7 linked regions of the Homo sapiens genome follow. The protein of the gene in region 1 interacts with the protein of each later gene in a biochemical or structural test. Each region holds a gene or a part of one and is shown in the gene's direction. Other genes may lie near its edges.

Region 1 (4,493 bases):
TGTCTTCTACCCTAATCTTGATACATTAGTCAGTTTCTCTGAGCCTTAGCAAAATAAAGGCCTCATAAGAGTTTTTGTAAGGTTTAAAGAAATGTTGCTACAGAGAGACCTGAGCATAGTACCTAGCACATAGTGAGTACTCAATAAATGTCAGCTTTTATAATACAACAGATATTCAAGGAATAACGGGGGAAAGTTTGCTTCAATGTTTTTCACATTAAATAAAACACAGTTAACTTAGAAAAAACAAGAATTCAGTTATTTTTATAGCCATACTAATAGGTAAGAATAATCTGATAATTAGAACTTTTTATCTATATATTTTTCTTTTTCATCAACTTGCAAGTAGCTTTATACTGTCTTCAACCATGAGTGATATTAATAATGAGTTAACTTGTTAGATGTCATTCAGTATACTATGCAGAAAATATTTTTAAAGAATATTTGGGTTAGGCCAGGCACGGTGGCTCACGCCTGTAATCCCTGCACTTTGGGAGGCCGAGGCGGCTGGATCATGAGGTCAGGAGATCGAGACCATCCTGGATAACACAGTGAAACCCCGTCTCTACTAAAAATATGAAAAATTAGCCATGCGTGGTGGTGTGTGCCTGTAGTCCCACCTACTTGGGAGGCTGAGGCAGGAGAATGGCGTGAACCCGGGAGGTAGAGCTTGCAGTGAGCAGAGACTGTGCCACTTCACTCCAGCCTGGGCGACACAGTGAGACTCCGTCTCAAAAAAATAATAATAATAATGGTGCTAATCTGCAGCAGTCCTAGAGTAGTCTGTCACCTGAAGAGAGAATTAGGAAACATCAGATTACATTTTCAGAGGTATTTTTTTTCCGTCAAGCTTCTTAGGTCCTGGAAGATTTTATGTAAATAGTTCTAGACAGATGGGACTCTTGAGGACTTTATTTTAGAAAATAAGAGAGGTTGACAAACTCACTGTGTAAAATCATTTTCCTTTTTCCTGGATACAATGTGAACAATTTGAAGTGAAGGACTGGTTAGGATATACTTTATAGTCTTCCATATTAGAATGTTTATTTTAAAAAATTTGATACAATTATAATCATGAATTTTTAATTATTTAAGCAACTTATGCTCAAAAGGTTCTGGTTGATCAGGAGCCACTGGTTGCAAGTTTTGGCTAATTATTCTTCTGCTAGTCCATCATATCATTACATGTAAATGGGAGGAAAAAAAATGAATGGTTTTGTACCATTCCCTCCTAGACACGCAAATAGAATATGCTGCTCGTCGGAGACAATGAGCACGTTGTAAATCTCCAGCAAAAGAGTCGAGTATGATTGTGTTTACATGTGAGAGCTGCTTTAGTGAGCTTTTTGTAGGATTTGCAAGATTTCGCCTGCCAAAGAAAAGTAGCTGATAAGACCTGTCTTAAGGAGGCTAGATCTTTCTGCTGCGAGAGTGGCTGGTGGATGGCATGGCCCAGGCCAGGAAACCAGGTACAGACAAAAAAGAGGTAGAGCACTTCGGGCTCACTGACATCAGATCACAGAACCATTTTATTCTGCAAATGTAGTTAGAGCATTGGCAGACATAGAGCCAGATTAGACTATTCCTCTTGTTATTAGACTTACCTTAAATTGCGGGTGTTTGCTTTTTTATTTTTTGTAGATCAGAGAGCATACCCCGTGATAATCAGATTTCAGTTTAAAAAATTATCTACAGTACTGGAGTTGATTAAAGGAGAATAGAAGTACATTTAAAGAACAGATGTGAATCCACTTTATTTAAGATAAATAAGGAAAATACTCTTACAGATACAAGTTCATTCCAGGTAGTCAGCACTGCTTGTAACAGAATTCTCTCTCAAAAGCAAACTACTTTGAAAAAGTGAACAAACCACTTTTATTGAATTCCTACTACATAATAGGAAATCAGTAAATATCTGTTGATTGGAAGAGTAAATATATTCAAAATCTAATGGCAAGAAACTATTCCACAAGCATGATTTCATGTGTACTCTGCATTAGAGTTTAGTTTTTCAAAGTTCAGTTTACTTTGATATGGTTTTTAACAAAGTACTTATGCCAGATGAGACATAGTTGATATAATATTAACAATATATTCATAAATAATGTTATGGAAGTTCAACTCTAACAATTTTAGCTGTTGTTAGCATCTAATGATATAGATTATTGTATATTTAAAGTGTGCTTCTAGATTATAAAGCTTGGCTTGTACAAGGAAGTGGAAATGGTTATTTATGGCTGAGGCACATGTGGCCATGATTCCCTAAGAGATTCCTTCCAACAGTCATAGGCCCAGGATTTCTGGAGCGCTATAATTACAGGCCAGGGATGAAAACTGTGATATCATATATACTTATAGCAGGAAAAAATCTTTAACAGAAAACTGAAAAGCATAAATACGTGTGTTTATAGTACCATATCGCAACTTGTACTCTACCGTAGAAAATGTCTGTTACTCATGCATCCATACAGTTTCCTACCTCATTTGTGATGTTCCCTCTGCCTGGAATCTCTCCACTCACATTGTCTGCTGTCTAAATCTTATCTTCCAAGACCAAGGCCGAATAAAATGTTCTGACCACTCACAACCAAATGTTAACTGTTCCTTTCCATAGCACCCTAGAGTACCTTTACCACCTGCTGCATTGCATTATAATTATTCCTTAGTTCTTTCTGACAAAATTGTAAGTCCCTCAAAGGCAGAGGCAGTGTAGGAAGTGCCATCCTAATAATCAGAAGACCCGAGAGATTCCAACCACTAATAGTTTACCTTAACACCTGTGGGCAGCATCTCTTGCCGCTGTCAAATGAGGCAATGAAACTCAAGATCACGTAGACCCCATTCACTTTTCCATTCTTCTTAGTGCCTTCCCCTGGTACACAGTAAACATCTGTTGAACACAACATTTGGGATGGATACAAATTTAAGCCGAGAAAGAGACCAATGCCCAGGAAAAAGTGTTCTTTCCAACAGAAGCAAATGTAGTTGTCCTGCTCTAGTTTTAGATATGTATCGCACTTATGTTCACAGCTAAGTACACTGTGGCTAAATAATCAGTGGCTCTGTGTGTTCATCTGGTTTCTCTAATGAGTAGAGGCATGATACAAATATGACTTACTGGATAATATTTTTAGATCTTCCCATTTTATATGAATATATGTATGTATCTTATGAAAATTTTTGGGCATTTTCAAGTGATTCTTTAGTGCTAACGGCAAATAGCTAGATGGGTTATATTAGTTTACAGTATTCAGAACAACAAATAACTTTAAAAGGACTTATGAAGAATACAGATATGAACTAGGACAAGCTAAGCTGATTGAATTGTGAACAATTGGGAGGCATTTGTGAATCCAGTTCTGAGAACTTTTGTCGACTGTGAAAGACAAAACAAATCTCATTTATTTTCCGCTTGGTAACAGTTTATTTATTCAAGCCATGACGAAGCCTAAGTGATTGTGGTTTTCGCAATTAAAAGTAACGGCAGAACCCACAATTGCTTTTGCACCAAGCTAACAGACGAGAACTGCCACAGGTCGCACTTTATGGCAGGCAGGGTCCACTGAAGCCCTCTTTTACCACCCTTCCTGCCATTTGGGATGTTTCTAACTATACCTTTATGTGTTTTTCCTAGGGCCTGGATTCCTTCTGAAAACATTCAAGATATCACAGTCAACATTCATCGGCTGCACGTGAAGCGCAGTATGGGTTGGAAAAAGGCCTGTGATGAGCTGGAGCTGCATCAGCGTTTCCTACGAGAAGGGAGATTTTGGAAATCTAAGAATGAGGACCGAGGTGAGGAAGAGGCAGAATCCAGTATCTCCTCCACCAGTAATGAGCAGGTGAGTGTGTCTCCGGAAGGAAGTGCCTATTCATTATTACTTTTAAATGCAGAAATCTTAGTGCACACTCCTCACTGTAATGAACAGATTTTGACGTTCTCCTTCCCTTTTTTACATTTGTAAAGTGCTCTGCAAAACTAAACCAAAAGCAGTTCAAATGAATACATAGATGTAACAATCAATGACCTTGACCCTGCCAGTACCAAGAGAGTTAAGTACAAGTGCTCCTCTCTGAAGGTGCGCTGGCTCTTTCAAGCCTACAGTTACCAGAACAGTAAATTAAGTCAGTGGTAACTGAGTGGATGGAAGGATGCAAAAGGTAGAAATGTATTCACTTCTCACCTGTGGGTCCACTATGAGTGTTTTCAGCAGAGAAGTATTTTCTAGTGTCTGGAATAATATATTACTTTTATAATGCCCACAGCTAAAGGTCACTCAAGAACCAAGAGCAAAGAAAGGACGACGTAATCAAAGTGTGGAGCCCAAAAAGGAAGTAAGTTGCCCACCTCGCAGTATCCAGGTGGCAAATGAAACAGGAAATATTTTCAAAGTATTTTGTATTTTCAAAGTATTTCAAAGACAGTCACTCTTGGTGGATACTTGTGAAATTCAGCTGCTGTCAGTCAAATCATATCCATCAAGTTGAAACCA
Region 2 (4,493 bases), on another chromosome or scaffold:
ATTGCTTCCCCTCTCTGGGCCTCACCAAGGGGTCTGGACAGAGATGTCCAAGAAACAGGATATATGCATCTGGAGCTATGGATTGGGCAGGGGTTGGCAAACTGTGACCCCAAGCCAAATCCAGCCCACCACTTGTGGTTTTGTTTTTTGTTTTGTTTTGGAGACAGAGTCTTGCTCTGTTGCACAGGCTGGCATGCAGTGATGCAATCTCGGCTCACTGCAACCTCCGCCTCCCACGTTCAAGCAATTCTCACACCTCAGCCTCCTGAGTAGCTGGAATTACAGGCACATGCCACCATACCTGGCTAATTTTTATATTTTTAGTAGAGACAGGGTTTCACCATGTTGGCCAGGCTGGTCTCAAACTCCGGACCTCAGGTGATCTCCCCATTTACCTCAGAGACAAAGCCCAAGTCATGACAATCCCTGGCAAGGTCCCTGTGACCTGGCTCTGGTATCCATTAGCCCCATCTCCCATCATCACCTCTCAGCTTTACTGCAGCCACCTTAGTCTCTGTGATATTCCCTGATCCCCCACAGCACACTCTGGCCCCAGGGCCTTTGCACTGCTGTTCCCTCTGCTGGAAAGCTCTCCCCAGGAGTCCCCAGGGCTCATCCCTCACTTCTATCACCTTCACAGAGAGGCCTTTCCTGACCACCTTATCTACCACCACAGCCACCCTACTATTGTTAGTGCACCCTACACCTGCACCTGCTTTTTCTCTTTTTTTTTTTTTTTTTTTTTTTTCTGAGACGGAGTCTCGCTCTGTTGCCCAGGCTGGAGTGCAGTGGCACAATCTTGGCTCACTGTAACCTCCACCTCCTGAGTTCAAGCATTCCTCCCACCTCAGCCTCATGAGTAGTTCAAGCAATCCTCCCACCTCAGCCTCATGAGTAGCTAGAATTACAGCCATGTACCACCACAACTGGCTAATTTTTTTTTGTACTTTTAGTAGAGATGGGGTTTCACCATGTTGGCCAGGCTGGTCTTGAACTTCTGACCTCAAGTGATCCACCCAGCTCCGCCTCCCAAAGTGCTGGGATTACAGGCGTGAGCCCCTGAACCTGGCTCCCCCTGCTTTACTATTTATTCTTCATAGCACTTTCCACCTGATGTGCTGTCTGCCTTACTTGTTTATGGATTGCCTGTCTCTGTCCCCTTCATGAGAATGATGGATCCATTAAGAGAGCAGCAACTTTGTTTTGCTCATTGCTGTTTCTCCAGAGCCTAGAACCATGCCTGGTTTATGATAACGAGGCAGTGGTTATTAGTGGAATGACTGAATGTAAGAATGAATGAATGGCTGGGTACGGTGGCTCATGCCTGTAATCCCAGCACTTTGGGAAGCCAAGGCGGGAGGGTTGCTTGAGGTCAGGAGTTTGAGACCAGCCTGGCCAACATGGTGAAGCCCCATCTCTACTAAAAATACAAAAATTAGCCAGGCATGGTGGCGTACCTGTAATCCCAGCTACTTGGGAGGCTGAGGCAGGAGAATCGCTTGAACCCAGTAGGCAGAGGTTGCAGTGAGCCGAGATCAAGCCATTGCACTCCAGCCTGGGTGTCAGAGTGGAACTCCATCTCAAAAATAAATAAAAATAAGTTTTAAAAGAATGAATGAAAGACAAGAAGGCCTAGATAGAAGGAATAAGTTAAAGTAATCAATAGTGCACAAGGGAAATTATAGTTAATGATCATTTACTTGTATATTTCAAGATAGCTAGAAGAGAAGGATGGTTGTGTTCGCAATACAAAAGATAAATATTTGAGGTGATGACTATCTCAGTTACCCTGATTTGATCATTACATATTGTCTACAGCAGGGGTCCCCAACCCCCGGGCCATGGATCAGCACCAGTCTGTGGCCTGTTAGGAACTGGGCAGGCAGCACAGCAGGAGGTGGGCAGAGGGCAGGCGAGTGAGGTTTCATCTGTATTTACAGCCATTCCTTATTGTTCCCATCACCGCCTGAGCTCCACCTCCTGTCAGATCAGTGGCAGCATTAGATTCTCATAGGAGCACAAACCCTACTGTAAACTGCACATGTGAGGGATCTTATGAGAATCTAATGCCTGATGATCTGTCACTGCCTCCCATCATCCCCAGAAGGGACTATCTAGTTTCAGGAAAACAAGCTCAGGGCTCCCACTGATACTGCATGATGGTGAGTCATTATATATTACAATGCAATAATAATACAAGTAGGCCGGGCGCAGTGGCTCACGCCTGTAATCCCAGCACTTTGGGAGGCCAAGGTGGGCGGATCACCTGAGGGCAGGAGTTCGAGACCAGCCTGGCCACCATGGTGAAACCCCATCTCTACTAAAAATACAGAAACTAGCCAGGCGTGGTAGTGGGTGCCTGTAATTCCAGCTACTCAGGAGGCTGAGGCAGGAGAATTGCTTGAACCCAGGAGGCAGAGGTTGCAGTGAGTCAAGATCATGCCATTGCACTCCCAGCCTGGGTGACAAGAGCAAAACTCCATCTCAATAATAACAACGACAACAGCAGTAATAATAATAATAGAAGTGCACAATCAACGTAATGTGCTTGAATCGTCCTGAAACCATCCCCCGGGCCATCCCCCTGCCCCCAGGTCCATGGAAAAATCGTCTTCTACAAAACTGGTCCCTGGTGCCAAAAAGGCTGGGGACCACTGCCCTACAGGTATCCAAATACCACTTGTGCCCCTCGAATAGTTACAACTATTACATATCAATGAAAACTAAAAGAAAACAATTAAAATTTAAAATACAAAAGTAGGACTGAAAAGCTGCCACTGGATGAGGGAATAGGGAAATGGATGGTGGTCTCAGTGGAGAAAGGGAAACAAGAGTTGGACTCAAAGAGATAGAGAGAGTGAGCAGGAGGAGACAGAGTGGATTGGGAAGTGTAGGTAACTCCTCCAGGAAGCGTGCTTGGGAAGTGGAGAAGTGAGGTCGGGTAAGGATGGAGGCATTGTTGGCTTGAGAGCGAGTGCCTTGGAAGCTGGGCCTGTCCCCAGGGAATAGGCATGTTGAGCTGTACCTCACCCTGATGGGCAGGTGTGCCCTGACCTGCCACAGCCTGGGCACCCCAGTTTCACCCTGTAGATGCTGACTCAGGCCACTGTTCCTTTTGTGGCCACAGGGCATGAATCTCTCCGGAGGCCAGAAGCAGCGGCTGAGCCTGGCCCGGGCTGTATACAGAAAGGCAGCTGTGTACCTGCTGGATGACCCCCTGGCGGCCCTGGATGCCCACGTTGGCCAGCATGTCTTCAACCAGGTCATTGGGCCTGGTGGACTACTCCAGGGAACAGTAAGTTTGGGAACATGTGTCAGACAGTACAGGGCAAAGGCAGAGGAAGCACTTAGCATCCAGTCCTAACCCAAGTTTATCTCACCTCCCCCTTCCACTTGAGTCCAATTTCCTCTTTGTATTGGTCAGCTTTTGCTGTGACAATGCTATGTAACAAACAACCCCCAGATCCCAGCAGCTTACAACAGCAGGTGTTTCTTCCTTATGGATCTGTGATTTAACTACTACAGCTTTGCCTTGGATGATTGGCCAGGGTCAGATGTACTCCTTGTCTTCTTGTTTTGAGACACAGGCTAAGGGAGTCCCCTCTGTTTCTCTATTTGGATATGCTGTTTACAAGAAAGGCGGCAGGAGCACAAGAAGGGGAGCTGTCCCCACTCTGAGTCCAGGGACAATACCCCCACCCCAACCCCCAGCTCAGGAGGCTGGCCAAGCACATGTGTGTAACTTTTTTCTTTTTCTTTTTTTTTTGAGATGGAGTCTCGCTCTGTCTTTCAGTCTGGAGGGCAGTGGTGCGATCTCCGCTCACTGGAAGCTCCGGCTCCCGGGTTCACGCCATTCTCCTGCCTCAGCCTCCCGAGTAGCTGGGACTACAGGTGCCCGCCACCACGCCCAGCTAATTTTTTGTATTTTTAGTAGAGAAAGGGTTTCACCATGTTGGCCAGGCTGGTCTCGAACTCCTGACCTCAGGTGATCCATCTGCCTCGGCCTCCCAAAGTGCTGGGATTACAGGCATGAGCCACTGCGCTCGGCCGTACATTTTTTTTTTCTTTCTTTCTCTCTCTCTCTCTTTCCTTCCTTCCTTTGTTTCTTTTCTTTTCTTCTTTCTTTTCTTCTCTTTCTTTCTTTCCTTTCTTGACAGAGTCTTGCTCTGTCACCCAGGATGGAGTGCTGTGGTCCAATCTCGCCTCACTGCAAGCTCCACCTCCCAGGTTTAAGTGATTCTCTTGCCTTAGCCTCCAAAGTAGCTGAGACTACAGGTGTGCGCCACCTCACCTAGCTAATTTTTGTATTTTTAGTAGAGATGGGGCTTAGCCGTGTCAGCCAGGCTGGTCTCGAACTTCTGGCCTCAAGTGATCCACATGCTTTGGCTTCCCAAAGTGTTGGGATTACAGGCATGAGCCACTGCACCCGGCCACATGTGTGTAACTTCTACCCCTTCCCTGCCCAGACACGGATTCTCGTGACGCACGCACTC
Region 3 (3,987 bases), on another chromosome or scaffold:
TGTATTTTATTTCAGAGCCCCCCAGACATGTGGTGCTCTGCGTGTTGGCCTGGCCCTTGCTGGCTTTGCCTGGGACTCTGGGGGCGCTGGCTCCAGGGACAGCTCCAGGAGGCACCTCCTCCGCTGTTCCTGGGCAGCGGTGACCGTGCTCCCCAATGCCAGCCTGGCCCCAGGGCCTCGGGGCCTCGATTCCGCCCTGTATCTGGGGCCACCACCTGCTTCACAGGGACCTGGGACCCACTCTGTCCCTGAGCCCATTTTAGAATCTGTCCTGGGTTTATGAGACATGCTTTTCGGATTTGCATCAGAACTGCATTGAGTTTAACAGGTGAATTTAAGGAGAATTCAAAGTCCTGTTACTTTGAGCTGACCCAGTAGGAGCTTATCTCCAACACGACTTCTGAGGCTCAGGCACGTGTAGCTAGATGTATTTCTTAGATACCTAGTGTTTTTTTGTTTTTTTGTTTTTTTTTTTCCAGTATAAGTGGTTTTGCACCCAAATCATTAGAAGACCTGTATTAAGCTGTTTGCTCCAGGTCAACATGCGTGTGCTGATGGGGAATGGAGTCACTGCCTGATGGGGGGATGGAGTCACTGTCTGATGGGGGATGGAGTCACTGTCTGATGGGGGATGGAGTCACTGTCTGATGGGGGATGGAGTCACTGTCTGATGGATGGATGGAGTCACTGTCTGATGGATGGATGGAGTCACTGTCTGATGGAGGATGGGGTCACTGCCTGATGGGGGATGGAGTCACTGTCTGATGGGGGATGGAGTCACTGTCTGATGGGGGATGGAGTCACTGATGGGGGATGGAGTCACTGCCTGACGGGGGATGGAGTCACTGCCTGACGGGGGGATGGAGTCACTGCCTGATGGGGGGATGGAGTCACTGCCTGACAGGGGGATGGAGTCACTGCCTGACAGGGGATAGAGTCACTGCCTGATGGGGGGATGGAGTCACTGCCTGACGGGGGATGGAGTCACTGCCTGACAGGGGATAGAGTCACTGCCTGACGGGGGATGGAGTCACTGTCTGACGGGGGATGGAGTCACTGTCTGACGGGGGATGGAGTCACTGTCTAATGGGGTAATGGAGTCACTGTCTGATGGGGGATGGAGTCACTGTCTGATGGGGGCATGGAGTCACTGTCTGAAGGGGGATAGCGTCCTCGGCCTCCCACAGGTGCTGGGATTACAGGAGTGAGCTACAACACCCGGCCCAGGGTTTTTTCTTCACTTCTCTTGTGTTTGCTTCACCCACTCCTACTCCAATTATTTTGTTTCCTGTGACATTTAATATATCTCCTACTTCATGTTGTCTTACAATATGCATATAATTGTTCACGATTACAAGAGACAATATTACCACCCAGGGGCCATCTCCTGAGTGAGCCTGAGGCTTCCCTTTTATCTTCAGCATGCATTCTGCTAGCAGGGGACGGCCACACGCCATCGAAGTCGGCCCCTTTCTGTGTGGGGTTATCCTCTGGGTTCGATACCCCATTAAGTTTAATGGCCTCTGGTTGTATTCCATTTTAGGGCTTGGTGCTTTTTTTCTTTTTAAAATGGTATTTTTTGAATATATAAAATATTTATGTGGTTCAAAAGCCAAACTATAAAAGACGAGCTCAGAAAAGCTGTGGTCTCATGCCTGACTGACCTGCTCCTCTTATGGGCAACCAGATGATAATTTTTTTTTCTTTCTTACAAAATAGCTTGTATACTAGAATCACTATTCTGTACCTTGCCATTTTTTTTTTTTTAAGATAGAGTCTCACTCTGTCTCCCAGGCTGGAGTGCAGTGGCACAGTCTTGGCTCACTGCAACCTCTGCCTCCTGGGTTCAAGTGATTCTCCTGCCTCAGCCTCCGGAGCATCTGGGATTACAGGCATATGCCAACACACCCGGCTAATTTTTGTACTTTTAGCAGAGACAGGGTTTCACTATGTTGGCCAGGCTGGTCTTGAACTCCTGACCTTAAGTGATCTGCCTGTCTCGGCCTCCCAAAGTGCTAGGATTACAGACGTGAGCCACCGTGCCCAGCCATATACCTCGCTTTTTAGTTATGTATTTATTTATTTTATTTTTCAGAGACAGGGTCTCACTCTGTTGCCCGGGCTGGTCATGAGCTCCTGGGCTGAAGCGATCCGCCCACCTTGGCCTCCCGAAGTGCTGGGATTACAGACGTGAGCCACTGTGCCCAGCCATGTACCTCGCTTTTTAATTATGTATTTACTTATTTTATTTTTCAGAGACAGGGTCTCACTCTGTCGCCTGAGCTGGTCATGAGCTCCTGGGCTCAAGCGATCCGCCCACCTTGGCCTCCCAAAGTGCTGGGATGAGGAGGCTTCTGCCACCGTGCCCAGCCCCTTGCTTGTTTTTTTAAACTTAATAATTTATCCTGGTGTTTTCTCGATACCCAAGGGGATCAGAGCTCTTCTGAATTCCTTCATCGCTCCTGACTGCCCGGTCAACCCAGCCAGTCCCTAGTGATGGAAACTGAGTTATTTCCAACCGTCTGCTACTATAAATAACTCCTCCGTGAACAACCTGCACGCATCTTCCTTTTGAATCCTCAGCGCATCTTTAGGATATCCAGCTAGGAGAGAGACTGCTGGGTAGAGGGTAGGTGCAGCTGTCATGCTGATAAATCTCGGCGACCTCCTCAATGGGGGCCGTCCACCTTCCCTCCTGCCAATGGCGTGAAGGTGCTCACTTCTCCACAGCCCCCCACAGAGGGTGTCACGCTGGAGTTCGGTGACACGGGTGGGAGCACCTCCGTCTCAATGTGGGTGAGGACGAGGACCTCTTACAAAGCATGAGGACGTCTGCATTGCTTTTTCAGTGGACTCTGCTCATGTCTCCTGACCATTTTCCGCTAACCCTGGTGCCGGGGGAGACCAGCTCCATCTGTGATGGAGGATACAAATGGTGGTCTCAGCCTGGCGGCTATTTCTTGTTCTGCTTGTTGTGATTTTTGTTATGTGAAAGCTATTTTTTTAAATAGTTAAGTTGATTAATATTTTCTTTAATGGCTCTGGATTTTTTTTTTTTGAGACTGAGGAAAGCATAGGCTTTGCAATAAATGGTGTCTCAACAACCGAAGAGCAAAGACCACATGGGGCCCATGCCTTTACCATCCTCCAGGGTAAACTCCAGCTGGGAACACAAGTACCAGACTTTCTAATAATTACTTAAAATCCAGGCCGGGCGTAGTGGCACATGCCTGTAATCCCAGCAGTTTGGGAGGCCGAAGCAGGCAGATCACCTGAGGTTAGGAGACCAGCCTGGCTAACATGGTGAAACCCCGTCTCTACTAAAACTACGAAAATTAGCTGGGCGTGGTGGCGGGTACCTGTAATCCCAGCTACTGGCGAGGTTGAGGCAGGAGAATCGCTTGAACCTGGGATGTAGAGGTTGCAGCGAGCCGAGATCGCGCCACTGCACGCCAGCCTGGGTGACAGAGGGAGACTGTCGCAAAAAAAAGTTTTATGTTAACTTGAGAAGAGCTGTTCGTTCTGTTTCTTCTCTTACTTTTTGTAGCAGTGACATTGGATAGATGTTTGGCTCTTTTGTGTGTTAACATTTAGTTGCTTTGTTTTTCTTGAGCCAACACGGGAAAGCTATCCATGGGCACAGAGGGTTTTGGGTGCTCCGTGGTCACTCTCTGGCCCCCTGCATCCTCGGCCGCTCCCTCCATCCTCTTCCCTGCCGAGCTCACCGCGCTGCCTCCTGCCCCTTCCTTCCTAGCAGCTGGTGCTCAGGGGTGAAGCTGTTGGGGGTCTGTGCACCCCATCCCCCCAGGACGGCTGCCCCCTGTCTCCTCCGCTCAGGATCCTGCTGACACGGAACGGTCAGCGCTTCTGCCTCCCGCGGACATTCTCTCTGGCTCTGGGACTGAGCCTTGCGCGTGTTGGAGCAGGAGGGGTGGAGCGACTTGACCACTAGCAGCCAGCACTGTCCACGGGGCCTGGCAGTGGCTC
Region 4 (4,493 bases), on another chromosome or scaffold:
ATAAGAGGTCAAAAGTATTATATAACAGAAGGTACCTCATTTTTGGGGCACTCAAAAGGCTTTTATTGAATCTGTGCTTATTCAAAACCTCTAAATGCTATGTTGAGAGATAGAAATGCATTGAGGCATTTAAGTGAGCAATGTGCTGGTTCATGTTTTTCAATTCACATACCTCAACATGATCCACTTATCCTTTGGACACATACAATGGTAAGTGTACTAAATAAATTATATTAGATTGCTAAACCTAATATTTATAGTAGGTTGGTACTGTGTGCAGACTTGTTCCTCAATCCATACAGGTGTTCTGGAAAATGCATTTTCCTTGATAAATGGCAGCATAGTAAAAGACTATTATATTACATTCTTTTTATTTTCTCCTAAACAGTTGCTTAATTTTTAGGTGGCCTGTTCTTTGCAAAACCTATGCGTTCAAAGGGGTATGTGACCATGTTAGACCCGTTTCAGCAAATCTATGGAAAACGCATGGGCGGACTCCTGTTTATTCCTGCACTGATGGGAGAAATGTTCTGGGCTGCAGCAATTTTCTCTGCTTTGGGTAAGGACCAGCTAAGTTGTCTAGCTGCATCTTTGTAGTTAACTAAACATCAGATACACAACCTTACTTTCCTCAGCCTTGGCTTCTGAGGACATTTTTATTAAAACCATATGCTGAACCATATTTATATGCATAAAAGCTTAATGGAAATTCTACGTTTACTTGCAATATGGTGGCAGAGGTTAAATAAAACCTCAGCTACACTTTCCATACTTGAATTGCCTCATTAGACCAATAACTATGAATTATAATGATCAATTTGCTTTTATGAGTCATATATGATTTTGAACAAAGAATAATGAATTAAGCATAGCTAAAAAGTGCAGTTTACTTAACATAAATGTTTAAAACAAGGATTCATGAACCAGGGGTTAGTGAGAATACTAATACATATTTTTGGTGTTGAATAAATTTAAATAAATGATTTATATCTTAATTTCTTCCAATAAGTGTTCTTCCTGCAAACTGAGAACTTTTTACCTCCCATTGTTTTCCCTCTAATAACTGCCATGTTAATTGGCATAAACACAGATATAAAACTACCTAAACTCCTGAGACAACAGTGTTGCATGTTATTCTAAAAGCACTGATATTTTCAGAGATGTTGACTTTTTAAATAAAATGTTTAATTAAAAACATATATAAAACAGAGTCAGTTCCAGCAGTAAATAACATTCCTAAAGAAGTGAGATATCACCAACCCTCTGCTGACAGAATAGGTAAGTAATGTAAGTCACACAGCAAAACTACAAACTTGAAATATTTCCATAAATTGATATTATAAAGTTCAATGTTACGGTTTAGTAGTGGAAAAATTTAAGTATGGTAGAATATAACAAGAATTTCCCCTTCAGTTTAAATGTCTTCTCAATAACTTACATGAGAAAGCTTGCCCATGCCTTAGCGTCTCCTCGACTCCAATCTACCCTTAGAGACACAGGCTTAGATGTGTACCACATGGGACCAGTTGAGACTGTTGGACCTGACTGAGGCTGTTGAGGCAGCTGGGAGATGGAAGCTCCCCATAAAGGTGTGCACTGCCCCGCCTTCAGCACATCCAATTTCATCCCGCAGGTTAGTCAGGATTTTTTTGATTGCCAACTATAAAAAAGAGTGACTGTTGCCGAAACAAGAGTATTTGATCGTTATAAAATACAGCAAGAACTAGGTGGGGGGCCGGGCGCGGTGGCTCACGCCTGTAATCCCAGCACTTTGGGAGGCCAAGGAGGGCGGATCACGAGGTCATGAGATCGAGACCATCCTGGCCAACATAGTGAAACCCCATCTCTACTAAAAATACAAAAAATTAGCCAGGCGTGGTGGCGGGCGCCTGTAGTCCCAGCAGCTACTCAGGAAGCTGAGGCAGGAGAATGGCGTGAACCCGGGAGGCAGAGCTTACAGTGAGCTGAGATCACGCCACTGCACTCCAGCCTGGGCGACAGAGTGAGACTCTGTCTCAAAAAGAAAAAAAAAGAAACAACTAGGTGGAAAATGCTGCACTTCTCTGGTGCTGGATAATAATACTCCACATCCACTGCTGCTCTTATGTTCTAATGATATTATGTGTAAAACTACACCTCCCTTTCCACCTGACTCTCATTAGCTGAGTTGCATTGGGCGCTTGTTTGCCATTGCTTTGAACACCAAAAAATGTTAATTTTAAGAACAAATTACCTGCTGAGGTATCAAAAAAGGAGTGGGCTGAGTATATAACAAAATACAAAATGTTCACTCATTGAGTAAAGATCAACTTATATAACAGAGCCCTGAAGAAAGAATAGAATTAATAAGCAAATGCTTCTAAAGTATTTTGGAAATATAAAATATAGTAACGAAACTGTGAACTTTGTTATAATTAGTTTTGTATATATGTGTGTCTGTGTTTGTGCCTGTATTACAATATACAGTCAGCTTAAGGATGTAGATGCATTCTGAGAGATGCATCAGCAGGCAATTTTGATGTTGTGTGAACATAGAGTGTACTTACACAAACCGAGTTGGTAGCGCCTACTACACACACAGGCTATACAGTATAGTCTATTGCTCTTAGGCTACAAACCTGTGCAACATGTTACTGCACTGAATACTATAGGCAATTGTAATACAATAGCTATAATGTCACTAAGCAATAGGACTTTTTCAGCTTCATTATGATTTTATGAGAATTTATGTATTTGTGGTTCATCATTGATGGTAACATTATTACCTAATCCATGACTACATATGTAAAATATGTTATTGTCTGTATCTTTCTAAACACTCACATATATCAAACAACATATATAAAAACATTGCTGCTATTGCTTGAACTCTTTGGGAGAGAGAGAGAGAGAGAGAGAGAGAGTGTGTGTGTGTGTGTGTGTGTGTGTGTGTGAAGTTACTTACTGGGTACTATGTACATTATTTGGGTAATGAAAGCACTGAAAGTCTAAACTTCACCACTATGCAGTATACCCAGGTAACATCATTGCACCTGTAATCTTTAAATTTACACAAATAAAAAGTAATAGTTGGATTTAATTAAAATTTAGTGTTTATTACAAATAATTTGATATATTCAAGAATATATAAGATCTATTACCACCTTTCTGTGAATGTGTATAGTTCACCATTGAAACATAGGAGAATCTTAAACTATCTTCTTGGTAGAAATTGACATCCTACAACATTTTGAAGAAATGTGTATTTACACTTCTAACAGCTCAAGTTCAGTGGATTTTCATAACTTTGCAGGATACTTATTTTATAGCTTCATGAGTAGACTAATATTTCCTGGTATACCTCAAAGTATCACTTTGTTTTACTTACAATTGATTTAATTTTTCAGAAAATATTTTAGAGAAAATTTTATCTCAATTTTAATAGTGATAATGGAGAAGTGATTGACGTCTCTAATATCTCTGAGTTACAGTTAAGTGACAGCATCTACTAGGACCCCAAATCTTTGAGATTTTAGTCAGCTAATCTTTATTTTATAATTGAACTTTTCATAATTCATGGTATATAGCTTAGAAGCGTTATTAAAGTGGAGAACTACACACAAAAAAAAAGAACGACAAAGTGTTGGAAGTAAAGTTTCGATTCGAAGTAAATGATCTCAGGAAAAAATAACTTTTCAAATATCTATAAAACAATAACTCAGTCAGTTATCTGAAGTCACTCATCTATAATTATCTCTCATCCTTGTCTTCATTCTCCAACTTCTTACTAGATTTTTCTTTTCAAGGGATCTTTACTCTGGAAAATAATTCTATTTTATCACCATAGCAAAACACTGAAAAATATTTCTTACTGATATTTTGGATCAACACATCTTATATTGAGATAATGTAGTTTCATCTCCAGTGGGTTGCATATACTACTAGCATGCCAATTGAGGAATGGGGGTAGGGTGTAAGACAACTCAGCTGGCTGCAACTGATGATACATAAAATCACAGATCCATTACATGTATGCATTTAATAATGTGACATGTAAACTGTATAGTTTTGAGAACAATAGGGAAAAGGCTACTAAAGCAACAAGTGAATTATGAACTGTCAGTCCAAGAACCACAGCGGCCCAAACTGGTCATACCTCAATATGTTCAGTGGAAATATAGGGACCAACAAACACAATAAACAATGTTATAAAGAGAAACATAAATTTGATTTCTAAGAGAAGTTTAAAATGTTGATGATGAAAATTACTTAAAAATATGATATTCAAATCTTAGGCTCTTCAGTATACTGGTATCCTAGGAGCAGGACTGGTATGTTCTACCAATTAAATAAAAGAAGAGTGATCTGTCGCAAATTAAAGAGGGAGAAATTGATTAATAACATTTACCAATTTGATAATTTGTTCCTACAAATTTTTCTCAATTCTTTGCTGCCTTAACCATTTGTTAGCTATCAAAGCCTAGTAGGGGGCAGAGTAAATGCAAAATGGCAAA
Region 5 (3,995 bases), on another chromosome or scaffold:
TCTAGTGTTCCACCATTGAGATCTTCCTTTAAAATCCTTTTTGTAAAATTTGGGCTGTGCTATCCATTCTATCTGATGTTCCACAGCACTTCCTGGAAAGATAAAATGAACAATGTGGAAACTCATAATGAAAAGTGGTACACAAACGTGCCTGTTGACTGAGCATCAATCAATTCCAGGAAAGCTTCAAGATTCCTGAACCTTTTTGAAGCAGTTTGGAGAATTAAAAAAAAAAAAAAAAAAAGAGTAAGAAAGGATTCCTGAACCCACTTCCACTTACATTCTACACAAAAAATGAAAGGAGACTTGCAGAATTGAGGGGACCTGCCCCAAGTAACCTAAGGAGCAGGTGGGAGCTCTCATTTCCTTTTCTGCAGTTCAGGGGTCTTCTGCTATGTGGAAAAGCTCAGGGCCCAGGATAAGTCCACTGACATTAAAAATTAAAAAAACTGAATTCAAGGCTGGGTGCAGTGGCTACTGCCTGTAATCATAGCACTTTGGGAGGCCAAGGCAGCTGAACCACTTGAGGTCAGGAGTTCGAGGCCAACACGGTGAAACCCTGTCTCTACTAAAAATACAAAAAAAATTAGCCGGGTGTGGTGGTAGGCGCCTGTAATCCCACCTACTTGGGAGGCTAAGGTGGGAGAATTGCTTGAACACTGGAGGCAGACGTTGCAGTGAGCTGAGATTGTGCCACAGTCTCCAGCCTGGGCACCAGAGCGAGACTCCGTCTCAAAAAACAAAATAAAACATTGAACCCACAATACAGAGTTTTTTGTTTGTTTCTGAGACAGGGTCTTGCTCTGTCGCCCAGGCTAGAGCGCAGTGGTATGATCAGAGCTCATTGCAGCCTGGAACTCCTGGACTCAAGTGATCCTCCCGCCTCAGCCTTCCCAGTAGCTGGGACTACAGGTGAGCACCACCACCACGCCCGGCTAAAATTAAATTCTTTTGGTAGAGATTGGGAATGGTGGTGTGGAGTCTCGGTATGTTGCCCATGCTTGTCTCCAGCTCAGGGTTTCAAGACATCTTCCCGCCTTGGCCTCCCAGAGTTGGAATTGCAGGTATGCGCTACCGCACCCGTGCCAGATATCTACTTTTTATACAAATTAATATTTCAGGGAACTCTCGAAGGTAAAAGTAGTCACAAAAAGCTGCAAGAGTTGCTGTGTCCCAGAAGGGAGTCCGGGATGGGGTCGGCGACCCTCGCCCGCACTCATACAGGCCAACTCCGGTCCGAGTTTGGAGGCAACGGAACACCGGAAATGCTGTGCAGGTCTGAGTGGGAGGTCAGGGCACACTGGACCGTTACCTTAAAGCTGCCCCATTTATGGCCAGGTGCGGTGGCTCATGCCTGTAATCCCAGCACTTTGGGAGGCCGAGGTGGGCGGATCACGAGGTCAGGAGTTCGAGACCAGCCTGACCAACATGGTGAAACCGTCTCTACTAAAAATACAAAAATTAGCCGGGCGTGATGGCGCGCGCCTGTAATCCCAGCTACTCAGGAGGCTGAGGCAGGAGAATCTCTTGAACCTGGGAGGCGGAGGTTGCAGTGAGCCGAAATCGCGCCCCTGCACTCCAGCCTGGGCTACAGAGAGAGGCTCAGTCTCAAAAAAAAAAAAAAATGCTGCCCCATTTGGCGCCCCAGAATGAGGACTGACACACTGGGCAATGGGCATCGCAGCGCTAGCAGGACTAAGATTCCTCTGGGTAACTCAGCCATAGCAGAGTTTTCAAGAGGAGGAGTGGCCCTGATGAGGACCCGTAGGGCTTCAACCGACCCCAGCTCAAAAACACTTCGGCTTGGGGGCGGTGCCAAGGCTGTGAGTGCTTCCAACACTTCGGCTTGGGGGCGGTGCCAAGGCTGTGAGTGCGGAAGCCTGCCGGAAACCTGGGGACGGAGCGAGGGAAATGACGCCTGGGAGCGACAACAGGGTGGGTGGGGCTGCTGACTCCGCCCCCGAAGGAAAGGGTTAACGGTTTCCGGTAGCGGCGTCTAGGAGGGGCGGGGGAAAGGAGGCGGCAGCCAGGCTGTGTCCCCTGACCGTTGGAGCGTCTGCGACCCCCGCATCCCCGCACCCTCAAGGCACCTCCAAAGATGATGATGGGTTGTGGGGAGTCAGAGCTGAAGTCGGCGGACGGGGAAGAAGCCGCGGCGGTCCCGGGGCCACCCCCGGAGCCCCAAGTCCCGCAACTCCGAGCCCCAGTGCCCGAGCCCGGCCTGGACTTGAGCCTGAGCCCGCGGCCCGACAGCCCTCAGCCGCGGCACGGCAGCCCCGGGCGGCGGAAGGGGCGGGCGGAGCGGCGGGGCGCGGCTCGGCAGCGGCGGCAGGTGAGCGGGGGAGGCTGGCCCCCGGCCCGCGACGGCCTCGCGCCCACCTGGTCACTGCCCTGCCCTCTGCTCCCAGGTCCGCTTCCGCCTGACGCCGCCCTCCCCGGTGCGGTCCGAGCCGCAGCCTGCGGTGCCGCAGGAGCTGGAGATGCCCGTGCTGAAGAGCAGCCTGGCCTTGGGCCTGGAGCTGCGGGCCGCAGCCGGGAGCCACTTTGATGCTGCGAAGGCCGTGGAGGAACAGCTGAGAAAGTCGTTCCAGATCCGCTGCGGCCTGGAGGAGAGCGTGTCCGAGGGTGAGGGGGGCGGGCGGCCGGCCGCGTGCGGGAGTCGGGGTGAGGCGCGCCACTCACCTCCGTCCCCGCTGCGCTCTCAGGGCTGAACGTGCCGCGCTCCAAGCGGCTCTTCCGGGACCTGGTGAGCCTGCAGGTGCCGGAGGAACAGGTTCTGAATGCCGCGCTCAGGGAGAAATTGGCTCTCCTGCCGCCACAGGCTCGAGCCCCGCACCCAAAGGTGATGGGGTCTGGGCGTGGGGCTTCCTCCATGTACCCCCTTACCCGGATCCTTCCTCCCAAAGTGTAACCTTGCTTTGGGCCCAACCTCCCAACAGGAGCCACCTGGGCCTGGGCCAGACATGACCATCTTGTGTGACCCAGAAACGCTATTTTATGAATCTCCACACCTGACCCTGGACGGTCTGCCCCCTCTCCGACTTCAACTCCGGCCCCGCCCTTCAGAGGACACCTTCCTCATGCACCGGACACTGAGGCGATGGGAAGCGTAGACCCCAAAGATCCCTGGAGGGCTAGTTCGTATTTTTGTGTTAAACTATTTGTTAGAATAAAGTAATTTTGCTAATAAATGGGACTCTTCTTGGAGGCCTAAAATGGGGTTAAAAGCTCTCTAGGGGGTTATCCACTTAGCCTCAGGTTGGAAGCTGCCTGGAAGTCGGGTTTGGGGGCCTTTTTGGAACTTGGTAGAGTCATGGCAAGTGGAAAACACTGTCCACGTTAGAGGTTTACTTAGATACCCCTCCGTTCACAACCTTACCTGCCTCTCCCTGACTTCAGCCACAGCTACTGCCTGTTTTTGATCAGGTAGCGATTGTTCTCTGCATCACTTATTCTGATCTCTCAAAATGCAGAGCCCAGCCTATCACACTTCACGAAAACCTTCCATGATTACCTGTCTCAAGGAGCTTGCAAGCCAGCTGTCTGCACTGAGTTACTGAAATTATCTCCTTGCTTTTTACCTTTAAGAGCCTTGCCCATCCTGTTTACACCTGACCTGAATACTCAGTATGTTCGAAGTTCCAGTAACACCTAACAAGCCCCCGAAGAGCTTCATGTTGTTAATTGCCTGTAAGTCTGATTCCACAGCACAAAAAAGGTGCTGGCCCGTCCCTGGGCATTTGATCCAAAGCACTTTTGCCTACCTCCACCGTCAACTCTTTCCAAGTTAGCCTTCTGGCCAGGTGCAGTGGCTCGCGCCTGTAATCCCAGCACTTTAGAAGGCCGAGGCGGGTGGATCACCTGAGGTCAGGAGTTTGAAACCAGCCTGGCCAACATGGCGAAACCCCCGTGTCTACTAAAAATACAAAAAATTAGCTGGGCATGGTGGCGCGTGCCTGTAATCCCAGCTACTTGGGAGGGTGAGGCAGGAGAAT
Region 6 (5,038 bases), on another chromosome or scaffold:
GTGTCAGATAGTGGCAGTGTTGAGCCCAGGAATACGCGCGGAGCCCGCGGCGATCCCCGCGGCCGCTCAGTCTTCGCGGCGGACTCCGGCGCGCAGGAGCCACTGGGCCGCAAGGGCGCCGGGGAGCGGGAGGGGCGCTGGGGGCGGCAAGGGGTCCCAGATCCCAGGCCACGAACTGTTTTCCTTTTCCCCGGGCAAGAGCCCCGCTCCCTTCAACTGACAGAAATTCACTGGGGCAGGGGGGCGAGTGGGGAGAGAGGTCGCTCAGGGCTCGCTACTGGCTGCGCCTCCCCCGGCTCTGGTCTGGGAAGCGGCTCTGGGCCCTCCGGGCGAGCAGCTTGGGCGCCGGCGCCCCCTGCGAGGAAGATCGCGGGGTGACGGTCGGTACCCGTTCGGCTGGGCCGCGCTGCCGCTCCGATCCACCTCCCTTCCGCGCCCGCGCCCTCCCCCTTCCTTTCACTAGGAGTCCGGGATTCGGAGAGGGCGCGGGAGGCAGGCACACGGGCCCGACCCCACTCCAGCGCTCACCGGGGACGCGGGCGGGCGGCGACGGGACGCGGCGGGGGCGCGGGGCGGGCGCGGCCATGGAGCAGCAGCGGCGGCGGCGGCGGCGGCGGCGGCAACACTAGCGACCGCGGGCGGACGAGCGGGCGGGCAGGGCCGCCGGGCTCAGCGGACCGAACTGCACAGCTCAGCAAAAGCGCCCTCGCCCTCCGCGCGCCGCCTCCTGCGAGCCCAAACCCACCAACATTTTTTAACGCTCCAACCCATCCTTTGAAGAAAAGCAAAAAAAAAAAAAAAAAAAAAAAAAAAAGCAAAAAAAGAAAAAGCATTGATCGGAGAGACGGGGATATATATATATATATATATATATATATATATATAAAATTTTTTTTGGCTCCTGCTAAAATTAGCAGGGCTCGCCGCGCGCCTGTGTGCCAGTGTGTGCGAGTGTGTGTGCGTGCGGGCGTGTGTGTGTGAATGTGATTACTCCAGGACTCCTCGGGCTCCGGAGACGCCATTTTCCCCCTTGATATCTCTCTCCATAAATCGGTGGCGCGGCGGAGGCGGCAGAGTCGGGCGGGAAGCGCGGGGCCGGCCGGGGCGCCCGCCGCTCGCCGCCGCCTCCGCGCGCCCGGGGGCCCCGGCGCCCCCCGAGCTAGGGCGGCCAGCTCGCGGCTCGCCGTTTGACAGATGCTCATCGCCATGGAGTTGCCGCAGCAGCACCTTTGGGGGCTCGGGCGAGCGACGGGAGCCGGGATCTGAGCGAGCGCCGGGGCCAGCGGAGCCGGAGCCGCCGGGACATGGGTGAGCACGCGCGGCGACCTTGGCCCGGGAGCCCGGGCGCCCAGCCTCCCTCCGCGCCGCGGGCCCCCGCACTCCCGGAACCGGGGGCGACGTGTGTGCCCTGCATGCAAAAGTTCACGTCGCCTTGCTGGGTCTTTGACTTTGCACCCGGCGGGAAGGGGGAGACCGGGCCGAGGGGGCGGGATGCCGGTCCGGGCGAGGTTGCAGGAGATGGGCGCGATTCCGGCGGGCCGGCGGGTGGGCGGCGATGCTGGCTCAATTGGAGTGGCTCGTTGGTGGCGGCGATGGTGGAAGCTTTGGGCTGGAGGGCTGGGAGCTTATTGAGTTTCGCCTAATCTGATCTACCCCCCCTCCGCCCCCCGCCTTTTGCACCCTCCCTCGGTCCTGCAGCCGGCTGGCGGGGCTGGCGGGTTTGGCGTTGGTGGAGTGGACTCGGGAGGGGGAGGGGGTAAGGAAAGGGGTGGGAAGGCAGGATTTTTTTTTTCTCTCTTTGTAACTTGCAGGTTAAGTGGAGCTAGAGAGCTACATTGTAACCTAGTTGGATTTTTTTGGGGGGGGAATGTATCAGAATCTAACGTGTCGTTAATAGAAAGAAGAACAGGCAAGAAGTGGTCCAGCCGGCGAAGGTTGGTGTGTGCTTGTGTTGTGCCTGTGTGTTAGTCTTTTTCTTAAAAATCTTAATCAATGGATTTGAGTCTCTTTCTTGTGCTCTCTGGTTTTGGGACTCTGAAAAGATAGGAATTCCCTTAAAAGCAGACGAATGCCTTTTTGAAAGCACGCATTGTGTGCGTTTCTAGAGGAGCCGTGGGCTTGGGAATGAACGGCAGGCTTCCCCGTTCGGTGGTTTCCAGTGGGAAATCACTCCGGAAAGGGAACCCTTCGGTATCGATTTATTGTTTTTGTCTTCCAAACCATTATCTCTTTGACCGAAATACTGTCTGAGAAGTTCCGCAGGGACAAAGTCAGGTAAACTGGACCGGGCAGATCTTTGGCAAGATGGTGATAACGGGGATGCTGTTTTCAGTGTCTGTTTGTGATGGAAGCATTGTTGGGTAATAGCAATTTCTGATCGGTAGAGCATGCTGGTTCTAAAAAAATAAGTTAACTGCCGAAATACTGTCTTCCAGCCCCCCTCCCCTGCACAGTACAGCACCTATTCCCCCCGCCCCCCCATCCAGACCGCTTACTACAAGTCTGAAATCGGATCCAACTGGAAATATTTTCATTGGAGATTGAAAGTTGTGCAATTGGAAATAGATGAGGCTAGAGGTATTGAGAGTGTGGAAGGGGAGTTCTTATTGCCCCCTAATGCTGCATTTATTCTTTATGTGTGTCTGTGTTGGATTCTCAGGGTGTGTATCTGTCTAAAAGGACTGTTGTGGGAAGGATTTCCGATTCGTTTCCGTTTCAAATAAACTGTCCTGATAATCTCACGGTTGACATCTAACGCTAAAAGGGCAATTTGTGTGTCTCTTTATCCCTGCAGAAACTCTCCTCCAAAAGGGCAGTTTATTCTGGAATTCTACAGCAGATACCTTTCCCTTCCAGCCCCTACACTCCCCCCACCTCCTGCCAACTATCCACACCTTTCCCCTTAAAGTTTAGTTGGAGTCCACTGGCGTTGATTGTTTTTCTCTTACATCTTTTTCCTTCTTTTTCTTTTCATTCCTTCACTCTTCATCCTGTTTTTCTTCTTTTTCTGTAGATTTATACTAAAAACTAATTTCTTGAAGTCTCTGTACTGTCACCAAAACTATCTGCCGATTTGGCACCATCTCTTACCCTCCTTTAGTAAATAGGTATATCTCCTGTGCCCCATCCAAACTCATCTTCACGTGCAAAGCATGTGTGTGTCGTGGGAGAAAGGGGATGGGGTAGAGAAGAGGTATTTGGAGAGGAAGGGCGGTGTTGTGTGCAGGCCACATCTTCAACACTGGACCAGACCTGGGCATTCCGGGGAGAGTTTCCTTTGCACACCCCAGCTGGGATGGGAAGGCGGAGCCAACCAGACAGGGGCGTGTGAGGGAGGAGAAAGTTTGTAGCACTTTAAGATGTAGCTAGTTTACCATCCCAGGTCACTCCCTCCCTTTTTTTCTGATTTCTCTGGCTTCTACCATCCTTAAACTCCCTGAGGGAGGCGTGAGCTCTTTTGCTCTGACGAGGGATTCCCAGGTGTCAGAGTGAAGGTGAGGTGCTGTGTTTTCCCCTGTGCTTAGTCTCATTGCCTGTTCCCAGAAAAGGGTATTAAGACAGAGTGTTTGGGGGAAAGTCGGAAGAGGAGGAAGAAATCAAGTGTGGTTAAACAGAGTATTTGCAAACGGCAGGGAATGTAGCCCCCAAAGATATGGAGACCAGGTACCCAGAGTGTTGCTTGGCACACGATTTCTCCTCCCCCGTTAAGGGGACAAAACCAAAACCAAAACAAACTATTGGTCTTGGGAAGTTGAGTTGGTGTTAGACCTGGGCTGTGGGAGTTGCTAGCCACTATAGTAACCTGAGCTGAGCTGGGGGAGGAGGTGGTGAGCGAATGCACCACCGGGAGCCAGAGGAGGGAAAGGGACTCGTCTCTCTTAGCTGGGAAAATAGATGTATCTCTGGAATAAACAAACTGGAGGTGGGGGAGGGGATGGCTTGCAGTGAACATAAGGTGGAGTGTCTGAGAGGCAGTAGTGTCGGTTAAGAAGGGGGCCACTTCTAGCTTGGGAGAAAATATCAACTGCCTTATATGTTCATGAAAGGGCTAGGCAAGTGAAGGGCTGTAATTTGATCTTTTGTATGTTAGCATCAGAATGTTACATAGGAAGGCTCTGCTGGAAGGCCCAGTTTTGGACATCACACAGGGGAACCTAGAGGTATCTTTAAGTTAACCCAACAGCCCCTGCTGCCATAAGGGCTTCTGGTCATGGACTTGCCTTGCTCAGAGTGAGCTACTTTGTAAATCACCTGACCTAAATGAGGGTTGGGGAAAAAGGAAACAGTGCTTGGGAGTGTTTTAGGATTTAGTTGAAAATGGTGAGTGGGGAGAGGCAGGAGGCAGGATTTTGCTGAAGAAGAAATAAATAGGTAGGTACTTTCCCCTGGATTCCATTTCTCCTGTTAACTTTGAATTCCTCTAGGGGATGAATCGATACTTGTCTGGCACAAAAGTGTACCTCTAGGAGAGGAGAGTTCTCTCAATGTGGTCATTATTTTTAGTTGTACTTCAATCTCTGCTCCAAAGCTTCTATATAGTATGCAAAAGGAAGCAGATGAGAAATAGCTAGCTGGATGGGGCATCCTTTCTGGGTTCCTGTGGAGACACTGAAACTTGGCTGGGCCTGGACCTCCCAGAATGCCAGTTTTTTCCTTGGAGACTTGAAGTTTAAATTGAAACCAGAAAGCTATTGAAGGCAGATCCAGCCAATGAAACCCTGTTTTCTCTGATGCTCAGGAATGGGAAATAAATAACTTTTTGCTGATGGCATTTCAAGTTGCTTCAGTTTTGCTCCTGCCAGAAGAATGGGGCAAATTATTATGAACACATTAGTATTGTAAGGAGGAGTTGCAGTGCTTTAAAAATGGGATGGTGTTATTGAGTTTGTTCAGGGACTCAGTGTATGTGAGAGTCCTACCAGAGGCTGGTGGTGGGAGCACAGGAGGCTGCCCTGGAGGGTTAGCAGCACTGGGTTGAAGAAAGGAAGCCTCACAGAGGTCTTGCTGCACATCATTTTGTCTGGTCCTGGGGTTCCTG
Region 7 (4,493 bases), about 100 Mb from region 1:
GGGGACAGAGCAAGACTATCTAAAAAAAAAAAAAAATGTCGGGCGCGGTGGCCCACGCCTGTAATCCCAGCACTTGGGGAGGCCGAGGCAGGTGGATCACGAGGTCAGGAGATCGAGACCATCCTGGCTAACATGGTGAAACCCCATCTCTACTAAAAATACAAAAAAATTAGCCGGGCGTGATGGCGGGTGCCTGTAGTCCCAGCTACTTGGGAGGCTGAGGCAGGAGAATAGCGTGAACCCAGGAGGTTGAGCTTGCAGTGAGCTGAGATTGCGCCACTGCCCTCCAGCCTAGGCGACAGGGCAAGACTCTGTCTTTAAAAAAAACAAACAACAAAAAAAAACAACCATGGATTACAGTGAGATGTGAAGAGGGACAGTCAGGGAAGGGTTATATAGAAACTAATCCCCTAAGCTGAGGCTTGAGAAACTCTATCAGGTGGTAGATTTAGGGAACAGGGCATTCTAGGAAGACAGAGCATCTTGAATGAACTGAAGAAACAAAACCAACTGGGTATGTTTTGGGGAATTGTGAGAGGCTTGGTTTGGCTGGAGTGTAGTAGCTGATCAGGGCAGTGGGCAGAGGTAAAGCGAGAGATAAAACTGGAGTGGTAAATAGAAGGTCAGATTATTGGGACCTCGAATGCCATATTAAGCTCTTTGGACTTTATCCTGTGCATTGAAGAAACTTTGCCAGATTGGTTTTTGGGTGCTCCATCTAGCAGGAATGTAGAAGACAGGTGGACTCTGAAGCTGCAAGTGGGGAGACGATAGATGATGACTGCATGAGTGCAGGAAAGATGCAGCCTAGAAGTCAGGCAGTACTCGGGGGAAGGGGCGGATCTGAGAATGGAGAGCTTAGACTCTAGGACCTGGCTACTAGGTTTGGGTAGTGAGAGGATGAGGGCTTCAGGAAGACCCTAGCTGGCTGGATTTCTCTTGCTGGTCCCCAAGTTGGGGAACATGGGGAAGGGGCAGTTGAAGCAGTGGGAAAAGTTGGGCTGCTTACCTTGCTTGGTGTACTTTGTGAGATGAGGTGGGGGTCTCTGGAGGCTATATACACGGTATTTGGAAGCGTAGAATCGGATCTCATCCTGCTATCTCCATCCTCCCTCCCCACCACAGGGCTCACCCCTCCAGCTACCCCTCCCCACCAGTTATGGAAGCCCCTGGCTGCTGTCTCACTGCTGGCCAAAGCCAAATCTCCTAAGTCCACCGCCCAGGAGGGAACCCTGAAGCCTGAAGGAGTTACGGAGGCCAAACATCCAGCTGCAGTTCGCCTCCAAGAAGGGGTCCATGGCCCTAGTCGAGTCCATGTGGGCTCTGGGGACCATGACTATTGTGTCCGGAGCAGGACCCCCCCAAAAAAGATGCCTGCCCTAGTCATTCCAGAGGTGGGCTCCCGATGGAATGTCAAGCGCCATCAGGACATCACCATCAAACCTGTCTTGTCCTTGGGCCCAGCTGCCCCTCCGCCCCCATGCATAGCTGCCTCCCGGGAGCCGCTTGATCACAGGACTAGCAGTGAGCAGGCAGATCCCTCAGCACCCTGCCTTGCCCCATCCAGCTTGCTGTCCCCTGAGGCCTCACCCTGCCGGAATGACATGAACACTAGGACTCCCCCTGAACCCTCAGCCAAGCAGCGGTCAATGCGCTGTTACCGAAAAGCCTGCAGGTCAGCCAGCCCCTCAAGCCAGGGCTGGCAGGGCCGCCGAGGCCGCAACAGCCGTTCTGTCAGCTCTGGGTCCAACCGGACTAGCGAAGCATCTTCCTCATCCTCATCATCGTCTTCCTCATCCCGATCTCGGTCCAGGTCCCTCTCCCCCCCACACAAGAGGTGGCGAAGGTGAGCTTTGATGGCCCTGTAGGTCCTCTCCATTTAGGAAGTTCACGTACTTCTGTGGTTTACTTTGAAAGCTTTTACCCGTTGACTTTGGTACTTTCAGGCGCTAAGGCTTCTATTTCTGACTTTGGCTTTTGTGTTTTCCCTTTTCCTGGATTGTTGAAGGAGGCAAGCTGTGAGACAATTGCTTCTGTCCCCTGTTGGAGCTTGGGGTGTCAGGTCTCCTGCTTCTTTGAGACCTGCCTTGGGGAGACTTTTAGGGTTTGATTTTGACCATGTTGATTTTTTTCACATACTGTATCAGCCTTCATTTTTGGTATTCTGGGCGCTATGTGAGGTAGTGGGTTACTTGTTAATAGAAAATAGTTCTTCCCTTAATCATCTGCTGAGGAAGGTGTCTGGGGCAGTTCCTTTGGGTGTCACTATGGCCTCATCTATTTCCTGGCAGTATCTTTTTTTCTCAGTAACCAAGTTTTCCCACTTAATGAAGAATTCTTGGGTTTTGGAGATGATATATGTCTTCAGAACTGGCCCATACTACAAGTCTAGCAGTTAACCTCTCTCATGGTCACAGTATTTCAGTGAGACCTGGTAGGGGAGCAATAGTAACCCAAAAGACCCAGGCTTGGCCCCAGCACCACAGATAGCTGGGTGTGAGACCTAGGGCTCACCCCTCTCCCTGAGTCTCCATTTATTGTTCTTCCTCTTTCTGATTTGTTAAATATTTTTCAATTTTTAAGTGCACAATTGAAAATGTGATCTCTTCCAAAACACTTCACAACATTCCAGGTACACCTAAAGTTCCATGAAGGGCCTCAGTTTGTTCATCTCTGAATGAAAATTGTTCTTCTAGACCTCTTCTACTCTGCTTTGTCTTTGGTCCTGAGCTTCCTAAAAGAAAGGCAGGACTGGGGCCTGGGTGAGATAAGCAGAGTATACCTGAACCACTCCCAGCATTCCTGCATGCCCTCTTATCCTTCAGGTCCAGCTGTAGTTCCTCTGGACGTTCTCGAAGATGCTCTTCCTCTTCTTCGTCATCATCTTCCTCTTCGTCTTCCTCATCCTCATCATCCAGTTCTCGAAGCCGCTCACGATCCCCATCCCCCCGCCGGAGAAGTGACAGGAGGCGGCGGTGAGCATGTGTTCAGGGAGCGCCATGCACCTGGGATGCAGGTGCCTAAGAGTTGAGTCTTGAATTGTCTTATGTTTGGGGGGCTGATGACACCCTCTTTTGTCAGGTACAGCTCTTATCGTTCACATGACCATTACCAAAGGCAAAGAGTGCTACAAAAGGAGCGTGCAATAGTGAGTAGAGGAACAGATCATGGGAGGATGGGGCTTACCCCCTGAGCCTTGAGCTCAGAGAGCTGCCTGCAGCTGTAGCCCTGGCTAATGGTGTGTTGATTTTTTTTCATTTCCAAACATAGGAAGAAAGAAGGGTGGTCTTCATTGGAAAGATACCTGGCCGCATGACTCGATCAGAGCTGAAACAGAGGTTCTCCGTTTTTGGAGAGATTGAGGAGTGCACCATCCACTTCCGTGTCCAAGGGTAAGCTTGGGCCCCAGGCTCAGGATGTTCTTTCTATCCCATTCATCTACCTTGGTGTTTCTTTGTCTTGCCTCCTTGCTCTGGTGTGCTGAGCAATATGGGGCACCTTCATTTCTGCAGTCAGAGGGTTGGCCACTGGGAATGAGAAGAACCACCTCTGTACCTTGGGATGCTGTGTCTCCTCTATGGCATGGGCCCATATAGCCACTCCAGCCCCTGCCTCACTCTCCTCCTACTAGGGACAACTACGGCTTCGTCACTTATCGCTATGCTGAGGAGGCATTTGCAGCCATTGAGAGTGGCCACAAGCTGCGGCAGGCAGATGAGCAGCCCTTTGATCTCTGCTTTGGGGGCCGAAGGCAGTTCTGCAAGAGGAGCTATTCTGATCTTGGTGAGTGGAGGGAGGGCCTAAAGCTTTGGAATGCTTCATCCCCTCCCCAGAAGGGTTCCTAACCCTTTGTGAGTGGGGCTAGGCAGACTTACCTTAGTTTGACATACAAAGAACCCAAGGGGGCTGGGCATGGTGGCTCACGCCTGTAATCCCAGCACTTTGGGAGGCTGAGGCAGGCAAATCACGAGGTCAGGAGTTCGAGACCAGCCTGGCCAACATGATGAAACCCCATCTCTACCAAAAATAGAAAAAATTAGCTAGAGGTGGTGGCACGCACCTGTAATCCCAGCTACTCGGGAAGCTGAGGCAGGAGAATTGCTTGAACCCAGGAGGCGGAGGTTGCAGTGAGCTGACATCACAACACTGCACTCCAGCCTGGGCTACAGAACGAGACTGTCTCAAAAAAAAAAAAAAAAAAGACCCAAGGGGTGGGACGAGAGGAGAAATGGGGACTGGGGACTCTCCTATCTCTTTGACTTAAAATTAGAGCAGTTTTCACTCCATCCGTTTTTGGGATGGGAGATAGCTAGCCATTTGCAGACCCTGTGGTTGGGAAGTGTGGTCAGAGACCTTGAAGTTTGTCTTTACCTTTATAGACTCCAACCGGGAAGACTTTGACCCAGCACCTGTAAAGAGCAAATTTGATTCTCTTGACTTTGACACATTGTTGAAACAGGCCCAGAAGAACCTCAGGAGGTAACCTTGGGCCC

What was found.
Region 2: the proteins of ZMYND11 (region 1) and ABCC6 interact in a surface display test, tested with the Homo sapiens proteins (one large-scale study listed by IntAct).
Region 3: the proteins of ZMYND11 (region 1) and MLC1 interact in a surface display test, tested with the Homo sapiens proteins (one large-scale study listed by IntAct).
Region 4: the proteins of ZMYND11 (region 1) and SLC5A7 interact in a surface display test, tested with the Homo sapiens proteins (one large-scale study listed by IntAct).
Region 5: the proteins of ZMYND11 (region 1) and PPP1R35 interact in a surface display test, tested with the Homo sapiens proteins (one large-scale study listed by IntAct).
Region 6: the proteins of ZMYND11 (region 1) and SETBP1 interact in a surface display test, tested with the Homo sapiens proteins (one large-scale study listed by IntAct).
Region 7: the proteins of ZMYND11 (region 1) and PPRC1 interact in a surface display test, tested with the Homo sapiens proteins (one large-scale study listed by IntAct).

The regions. Positions count from the first base shown.
Region 1 is NC_000010.11:243,132-247,624, forward strand, and holds part of ZMYND11 (zinc finger MYND domain-containing protein 11), read left to right. Parts: exon of another isoform or gene 1-2,890; intron 2,891-3,634; coding exon 3,635-3,842; intron 3,843-4,266; coding exon 4,267-4,335; intron 4,336-4,493. UniProt on the Homo sapiens protein: Chromatin reader that specifically recognizes and binds histone H3.3 trimethylated at 'Lys-36' (H3.3K36me3) and regulates RNA polymerase II elongation. Does not bind other histone H3 subtypes (H3.1 or H3.2).
Region 2 is NC_000016.10:16,177,600-16,182,092, reverse strand, and holds part of ABCC6 (ATP-binding cassette sub-family C member 6), read left to right. Parts: intron 1-3,127; coding exon 3,128-3,295; intron 3,296-4,466; coding exon 4,467-4,493.
Region 3 is NC_000022.11:50,064,440-50,068,426, reverse strand, and holds part of MLC1 (membrane protein MLC1), read left to right. Parts: intron 1-3,987. UniProt on the Homo sapiens protein: Transmembrane protein mainly expressed in brain astrocytes that may play a role in transport across the blood-brain and brain-cerebrospinal fluid barriers. Regulates the response of astrocytes to hypo-osmosis by promoting calcium influx.
Region 4 is NC_000002.12:107,992,569-107,997,061, forward strand, and holds part of SLC5A7 (high affinity choline transporter 1), read left to right. Parts: intron 1-388; exon of another isoform or gene 389-403; coding exon 404-559; intron 560-4,493. UniProt on the Homo sapiens protein: High-affinity Na(+)-coupled choline transmembrane symporter. Functions as an electrogenic, voltage-dependent transporter with variable charge/choline stoichiometry.
Region 5 is NC_000007.14:100,434,478-100,438,472, reverse strand, and holds PPP1R35 (protein phosphatase 1 regulatory subunit 35), read left to right. Parts: upstream 1-1,975; 5' UTR 1,976-2,098; coding exon 2,099-2,332; intron 2,333-2,408; coding exon 2,409-2,625; intron 2,626-2,705; coding exon 2,706-2,842; intron 2,843-2,939; coding exon 2,940-3,113; 3' UTR 3,114-3,191; downstream 3,192-3,995.
Region 6 is NC_000018.10:44,679,088-44,684,125, forward strand, and holds the start of SETBP1 (SET-binding protein), read left to right. Parts: upstream 1-1,800; 5' UTR 1,801-1,934; intron 1,935-1,956; exon of another isoform or gene 1,957-2,274; intron 2,275-5,038.
Region 7 is NC_000010.11:102,145,547-102,150,039, forward strand, and holds part of PPRC1 (peroxisome proliferator-activated receptor gamma coactivator-related protein 1), read left to right. Parts: intron 1-1,125; coding exon 1,126-1,846; intron 1,847-2,825; coding exon 2,826-2,975; intron 2,976-3,081; coding exon 3,082-3,148; intron 3,149-3,270; coding exon 3,271-3,392; intron 3,393-3,631; coding exon 3,632-3,783; intron 3,784-4,379; coding exon 4,380-4,483; 3' UTR 4,484-4,493. UniProt on the Homo sapiens protein: Acts as a coactivator during transcriptional activation of nuclear genes related to mitochondrial biogenesis and cell growth. Involved in the transcription coactivation of CREB and NRF1 target genes.